Homo sapiens: one gene and its partner. The protein of the gene in region 2 interacts with the protein of the main gene of each other region in a pairwise test. Each region holds a gene or a part of one and is shown on either strand. Other genes may lie near its edges.

Region 1 (3,753 bases), on a different chromosome or scaffold from region 2:
TGGTGGCACCATGGGCAAAGACAGAGTAGCGAGAGAGAATGTCACGTAAAACTGGGTCTGGCTATGCGCCCTTTTTGTGTTCTTTGGCTTAAGTTGAGTTTGAATTTGTGGCTCTTAGAAGTATGTAGATATGTAGGAGCCAGTATACAAAGTATTTATGTAGCACCTACCAAGTCCAAAGACCCTATGAAGTTCTGAGATGGATGAGGGAGGTCTATAGTGTGATTGACATCTGCCTTTAAGGATCTGCCAATGAATTTGGGAAGATGAGGCATACATTCACACATACAGTAGCATGGTTACCAGCACTGTCTGTAGAGTCAGACAGATCTAGGTTCAAATTCTGGATCTGTTCTTTACTAGCTGTGGAACTGTAGGCAAGACATTCCAAACCACTCTTGAATCTCTGTTTCCCTGTGGCAGTGGTTCTCAAAGTGGGGCATACTTATCACCTGCGAGCTTGTTGGAAATGGAGATTCTCAGGCCTCACTCTGTAGGCTGTGGGTGTGGGGCTTAATAAGTTCCTGGAGAGATTCTGACGCAAGGTCAAGTTTGAGAACCACTGCTTAATGGGCTGGTCATGAAGATTAAATGAGGCAATATATATAATTAACATTTTCAGGTGTTCAATAAATGGTAGCCATTACTTACCAGCAACGTTATACATCATATGTATATATGTGGGGGGGGAGAGAGAGAGAGAGAGAGAGAGAGAGTGTGTGTGTGTGTGTGTGTGTGTGTGTGTGTGTGTGTGTTAAAGGGGAGTGGGAGCAATGTGAAAGCTAGTTGAGCTGCAGCAATCTGAAGCAATTCCTTTCCCCCATTGTTAGGGGACAGAGCCAGATGTTCTTTGCAGAGTCCTCACCAGCTCCTTAAAGGCTTAACAGACGTTTTGGGTAGCCATGCTCCTTCCCTGGACTCTCTTCTCTGTGAGTCCCCGAGTGCTGACTTATCTACAGTTCTAGCCAGAGTTGTTTAAGGACCACAGGAGTTGTACCCTGTGTGCCCAGAGCGGTGGCTAGGCAGTTTAGGGAGGAGTGGTGTGAGAGGCTTCAAAACACAGACCAGATTACCACCACATTCCGCTGATGATCTCTTTTTCTCTAGCGTGGGTATTGGTCTGTGCTTTTTCATAAGGAATTGCAAGAACCCCAAGGAGCAGGTGCTGGGTAAGACAAAAAGATGTCGCACTGCCATACCTCCCCTGGTAGCATCAGCCTTCCTGGCCTGGTTTCACTAACTAGTCCAGCAGGGGCTGTTTGGGGGAAGTGAAGGCTTTAAGTTATGAGTTTAGAGGAATATGGCTATTTCTAGGCTGGGTGCCAGGGAGAATATTTTCTTTCTAGCTTTCTCAGCAAAGATGCCATGATGAGAAGCTAAATCATGTCTAAGTTAATGGGCATATGATATCAAGGGAAGATTTGGTTTAAGCTTCCAGAATGAGCTCAATGGGAAAATTGGAGCAATGTTCAAAGAAGGATTGAGAAGCTGTGCTTTTATCATACTTCCTTAGCTATACGAGGACTTATATCTAAGCTTTAAACAATAAATGTTTATTTATTACTGTGTTGAAGACAACATTCTGGAACTATAAGGTGGACTAGATGGCTCCTCAGAACAGCTTTCTAATTTATATTCAAGGAATCCAGGTCCAAGGCTGATGAGAAGTACCAAATGTCCACATCAGTAAACTTTGATAATTTCTCCTACCTACAGAGCAAACTAGTAAGGCTTAAAAATGTGTGTGAAATCACCAAAAATTCCATTAAAGGCACATAATATGTTGGTGGTATCAATATGATACACGTACGTGCCTCTTTGTGGCAGGCACTGTATTAGGTTCCAGAGATCCTAAGATGAATGGGACACAGGCCTGACTCTTAACAGAGCTCAACACCTGAGATAAGTGTCCAGCACTTAAGCGTGGCCTTTGACATACATACCTTAGATGGTAAAAGATGTTATGATAAAGAGCCTGGGGGTGAGAGTTCATAGGTGACATGAAGTTTGAACAGGAATAGAAATTGCCCAGCAGATGTTCCAGATGGGGGTTACTCAGGACCTCTCAGGCTGAGAGAATAGTATAGGCAAAGTGGTGAAACAGCATGATAAATTTTGAGAATACTGACTAGTTTAGTGTTACCATTTTCATCAGTACACATTTCCTCCCCAGAATCAAGGAAAGAAGGACAGAGGACACGGAGTGGTAGAATGAAATTCTTTAAGTTGCTCCCTGGAGGTGCTTGCTACTCACTTTCTTCAGTGGCCCTGGGCCTTTTGAAAGACTGATGAATAGGTACCAAGAATGCACGGCTCCCCTCCTGTGCCTCAGCCCCGTGCCAATTGTGGGGAAAGGGAGCAGCGAGTGTCTGGGGAAAGAGTGGTCCCAGAAGGTTTGATAAGAGGCTAGAAGCTTAAGCAAAAGCAGGCAGGGAAGGGAAATGACCAGTGTTACCGAAAGGTATGAACAGGGGAGATATTGAAGGTGTTTGACCAGAGCAGAAGGTACATTGGAGAGAAAAGGAAGGACTAATTTTATGGAGAATCTTGAGTGCCAGGCAGAGAGATTTAGTTATAAGCACCTGAGACCTTCTCTTGACGCAAACACCAATTTGATCCCTCCCACTTCAGATGTCTTTGCCTGCTGGGAAGTCTGGTTTTTTAGAGGCAACTGCAGATTTTCAGGGGGTGGTTTGTGAATGGTGTCTTCTTCCTGGCTTTGGGCATGATGACGGTTGTAGCTTTGCTAAATATAGCCAAATCTAGAATTCAGAAATGAAGTCCAGAATAAGCAATTGCCATGGTCAAACTCTTTCTTTCAGTCTTTCTAACAAAGTAAAGCTCATTTAATAACAAATAATGATGAAGAGAGAGCAGCAGTTTCACGTGACTTTTGAGTGGGAGGGTATGAGGGGAGACATACACTTGTACCCTGGTAGCTAAAACGCCATGTAGAGTACACAAGAAAGGTTTGATAAATATTAACAAAACACACAAAAAATATTACTGCATCAGAGCCGTCATTTTAACTTGCAATATTTGAATGTTGACGCTTCGGAAAGGGGACTAGTACCACCTTCATCTTGCACCCTTTCAAGGATGCATGCCTTCTGAGCCTACTTATGAGGTAACTGTGACATCCGCATCTGAAAGAGAAAAAAATGATAATAATAGAAACGTATTGTCTATTAAAGTAGCATCTAGCACTGTGAGCTAGCAGAGACTTGCCTCCGGTCTATTTTATGGAGCCATATTTTGGTGTGGTGGAAAGAACACTGCATTATGAATTGGGAGATCAAGGTTTGTCAGTTCATTCACTCCCTTATTCAGTAAATGTTACTGAGCATTCATTATGTGCCAGGCATCATGCGGAGATAAATGAGACATGGCTGTGCCTTGAGGACCTCACAGTCATAGGATTTCAGATATGTGAGCAAATAGCTGCAGATGCTGCGCTGGAGTCATGTAAAAGAGCTGGGGAACAGACCCAAGGCAACAATTTTGTGGGTTGGGGAGTAGTCAGGGAAAGCTAAAGAAAGGTGACATTTGAGGTGTGTCTTCAAAAATGAGAACTTATTGCTAGATGGACAAGGTAGAAGAACATTCTAGGCAGAGAGAATAACATGGCCAAAGACACAAAAGCAGAAAAATAACTGCTTACTGGGGAGCTGTATGTTTTGAGATAGCGATAATCTACTAGTGGCCCAGGGCTGTGCTGTTCAATAAAGTAGCCCACTAGCCACATATGGCTAT
Region 2 (3,753 bases):
TTTATTTATTTATTTATTTATTTTAGAGGGAGTCTCAGTCTTTCACCCAGACTGGAGTACCTCTGCTTTTATGAAGCCGCTAATCCAGTGCCAGGATCTAAAGCAAGCAGCTGGCTTCTACCAAGTTCCTGCCATCTCATTTCATCCTCTCCATGCCTTCCATTTTGTAGGTGAGGGGAAGGAGAGCCTTAGAGAAGGAAAGTGACATTTTAAAGCTCACACAGCTAGAAAGCAACTCATGCATCCATGTCTTTCTGATGCCAGAACCCAGCCCCTTGCCACTGTACCATACTGCCTCTTGCCAAGGCCACCTGGGCTAGCCATTTCCAAACCCAGCCTTCCTGCTGCCCTGGAGGCTGGGTTCCTGCCAGAAATTGAGCTAAGCCCTGGGGGAGGACATGGGAGTTCTGAAAAGTTAAGCAGCCTGCCTCCCCTGGAAGTGTCACCGGAAGATGAAAGAACTCTTGTCACCTGACCCAAGGAAGCCAGTCCCATGGCCCAGGTGGTCAACAGGAATGACCCGCAACTGGTTGGCTCGGGCAGCCTGCCCCAGCTGAGTAAATGGCTCCACTGGCACCCAGCTGCTCAGGCCAAAACCCTGGGGAGCATCTTGAATTCCACACATTCCTGCACCCCCACATCCTATCCACCAGCAAGTCCTGCCAACGTGTGTTCCTGTACCAAATGTTCACTGGGATCTTGCTATGAATCAGGTGCTGCTTTCCCTCCTGGGGTCTATCCCCTACCCACACCCTCACCACCATCACAGCTGTGTCTCCTTCCAGCCCCTTCCACAATAGGGATCGTTGGAGTTTTCCTTTCCTTGACTAGGGCTACTTCCCAGTAGACAGCAGTCTCCGCAGGGACAGGGGCATCTCTGTTTTGTTCACTCTCACGTTCCTGGCTCCCACAGTGGTGCTGGCACTCCATAAATTCATACTGGACAAATGACCAGTGATCCTGCCCACGTCTATCCTTGGCCCTAACGTGAACCTTCCCTTGTTTGCCCTAGGATCTCACAGATCCACTCTCCCCTTTGGAGCTCCTCTGTCCAGAGGTCCTGGAGACAGGGAACACTATGCCTGTGCCGGTCACTATGGGGTAGCAGGATAAATGCTGCACGCAGGTAAGACATCTCTGGTGCCTTTCAGGGGTCTTCATGAATCCCCCCAGTGCAGGTGTGTCTGCAGGTCACGCTGTGAGGCTTCTCTTTCTCTGGCATTTCAAGGCCTCCAGTGCATCATGGCAGACTCTCCCTGGGTCTCTGTGGGCCCACATCTGACCCTGTGAATCTCTGGGCAGGTGTGTCTTCCTTCTTTGCATTCATCAAGCAGCGCCAGGCACTGTCTCAAGTGCTTGATACGCATTTTCTTTTTTTTTTTTTTTTGAGACAGAGTTTCGCTCTTTTTGCCCATGCTGGAGTGCAATGGCATGATCCCGGCTCACAGCAACCTCCGCCTCCTGGGTTCAAGCGATTCTCCTGGCTTAGTCTCCGAGTAGCTGGGATTACAGGCATGCGCCACCACGCCCAGTTGACAAGCATTTTCTTGTGTGATCCTCGCAGCAGTTCTCTGTGAAGCAGGCATTGCTATCCTACAGGTTGGGAAAAGAGGGCCAGAGAGGATCAGTGACTTGCTCACGGTCGCGCGGCCTGGAAGACATGGAGAGCTGGACCAGCACGCACAGTCCCTAACCACTGGGACGTGCTGGCGGGGGCTACCTCCGTGAGGTGTGTGTCTCCGGTCGCCCCGCCCCCGGTGTGTGCGGAGGAGCAGGCGGGGACTACAAGTCCCGGCAGCCCCGGCGCGGGCGCTGCGAGGGCCGCAGAGGGCCGGGCGGGGCTTGCGGCGCGCACGGAGGGACTGCGGCAGTGTCGGAGCCGCGCCGAGCCTGGTGGCCCAGGTGCCCCGCCCGCGTCAGCCCTGCTCCAGCCCCGCGCTAGCCCAGCGCCCCTCGCCCCGGGCCGTCCGGACCGCGCCCCCGCCCAGGGCCTTGCGCACGCCGGGGCCCAGGCCGAGGGCCGCAGCGCCGGGGCCGGCGATGAGCGCGAGGAGCCGGCATGAGCGCAGGTGAGTGCGGAGTCCGGGTCGGCCCCGAGCCCGGCGCGGTCCCCGGCCCGCCAGTTGTCGTCACCCCTTGGAGGGAGAGGGGAGGCGACGCCCCCCACCGCGGGGTCGCGAGCCCAGGAAGCGGGACCTGGTTGGGGATCCTGGCCCGTCCCCTCCCTTTTGACGGGGACTCGGCCCCGGTTTCTTCCCAGAGACGCCGGGGCTGGGGATGGCGCCGCCGCTCGCAGCCGGTCCCTCCCCTCCCCTGCACCCCTCAGCCGCGGGATTGGAAGCCGGGCGCTTGTGCAAGAGGGTCCTGGGGCCGTGCGGGGACGGGGAGGCCACCCCACGCCCACTTAATCGGATCCCACCCCGAGTGACGGATGTCCAGGTGGGGGAGACGGCTGCATCCTCGGGCCTCTGGGCAACCCCTCTGGGCTGAATGAATGAATGAATGGCGTTGGGGGAGTCGGGACTCCATTTCCTGGGTAGATGTCCTGGGCCACAGCGCCACTCCTGACCTCCTGCCTCAGACCCCAGAGAAAACCCGTCACACCCAGGGCCAAGGGCCACACCCTCCATGCAACCCATCCCTGGCCAGATGTCCTACGCCCACTCCTCCAGGGTCTAATTTAAATCCCACCTGCCGGGAATGGGGCCAGTCCTCCTCCCCTATCCAGAAAGGTCTCATCTCAGTGTCTGTCACTCAGCCCCCAGCCCCACAGCCTAGAGTGCACCCCCCGGCGAGGGAGGGGAAGGAATGAGGAAAGACAGCCCCTAGAATCCAGATCCAAAGATGGGAAGATGGTTCACACACACTCCCGCCTCAGCCTGGCAGAAGACAGGAGCTCCCCGCCGCCGGGAACCACAGCCAGGGAGGAGGCAGCCGCCCTGGGCCGCTGCCAGGTCACCAGCAGGAAGCCAAGGCTTCCGCAGGAAATAAGAGGTCCCAAATGGCTCTAGCCCCTCTGATCCACAGTGCTGGTGACACTGCCCCGAGCTGTGACCTCAGACGAGGTTCAAGTCCAGTCTTGGCCCCTCATAGCTGTGTGACTTTGTGCTTGTCAATCTACTCCTCTGGGCCTCGTTTTAAATGGGAATCCTAATCTGTACTTTTCATGGAATGGCTGTGGGAAAGAATGTGCCCATTCAGACACACTCATTTCCAGCTTCTCCCCTTTCAAGCTCTATGACCCTGGACAAGGGATTCACATGCTGTTCCTCAGTTTCCCCAGGTGTACAATGGGGATAATAATAGTCACTACCCCAGAGGGTTGTGTGTGAAGCTTCATTGAGTTAGCACACTGAAGGGCTTCCGCAGGGCATGGTGAGCACTCCATGGGAGCTGCTGTTCATCAGAAGAGCAATGACAGGCCAGGCGTGGTGGCTCACGCCTGTAATCCCAGCACTTTGGGAGCCTGAGGCAGGCGGATTACTTGAGGTCAGGAGTTCAAGACCAGTCTGGCCAACATGGGGAAACCCCGTCTCTACTAAAAATACAAAAATTAGCTGAGTGTGGTGGCATGTGCCTGTAGTCTCAGCTACTTCAGGAACTGAGGCAGGAGAATTGCTTGAACCTGGGAGGTGGAGGGTGCAGTGAGCTGAGATCTCTCCACTGCACTCCAGCCTGGGAGACGGGCAGGGGGGAAGGGGGGAACGGGGGGGGAAGACTCCATCTCAAAAAAAAGAGCAATGCCATCATGAA

What was found. The genes of interacting proteins can lie anywhere in the genome.
Region 1: the proteins of ATP13A2 (region 2) and AAK1 interact in a two-hybrid assay, tested with the Homo sapiens proteins (one study listed by BioGRID and IntAct).

What each region holds. Positions count from the first base shown.
Region 1 is NC_000002.12:69,637,017-69,640,769, reverse strand, and holds part of AAK1 (AP2-associated protein kinase 1), read left to right. Parts: intron 1-3,753.
Region 2 is NC_000001.11:17,010,045-17,013,797, reverse strand, and holds the start of ATP13A2 (polyamine-transporting ATPase 13A2), read left to right. Parts: upstream 1-1,869; 5' UTR 1,870-2,059; coding exon 2,060-2,069; intron 2,070-3,753. UniProt on the Homo sapiens protein: ATPase which acts as a lysosomal polyamine exporter with high affinity for spermine. Also stimulates cellular uptake of polyamines and protects against polyamine toxicity.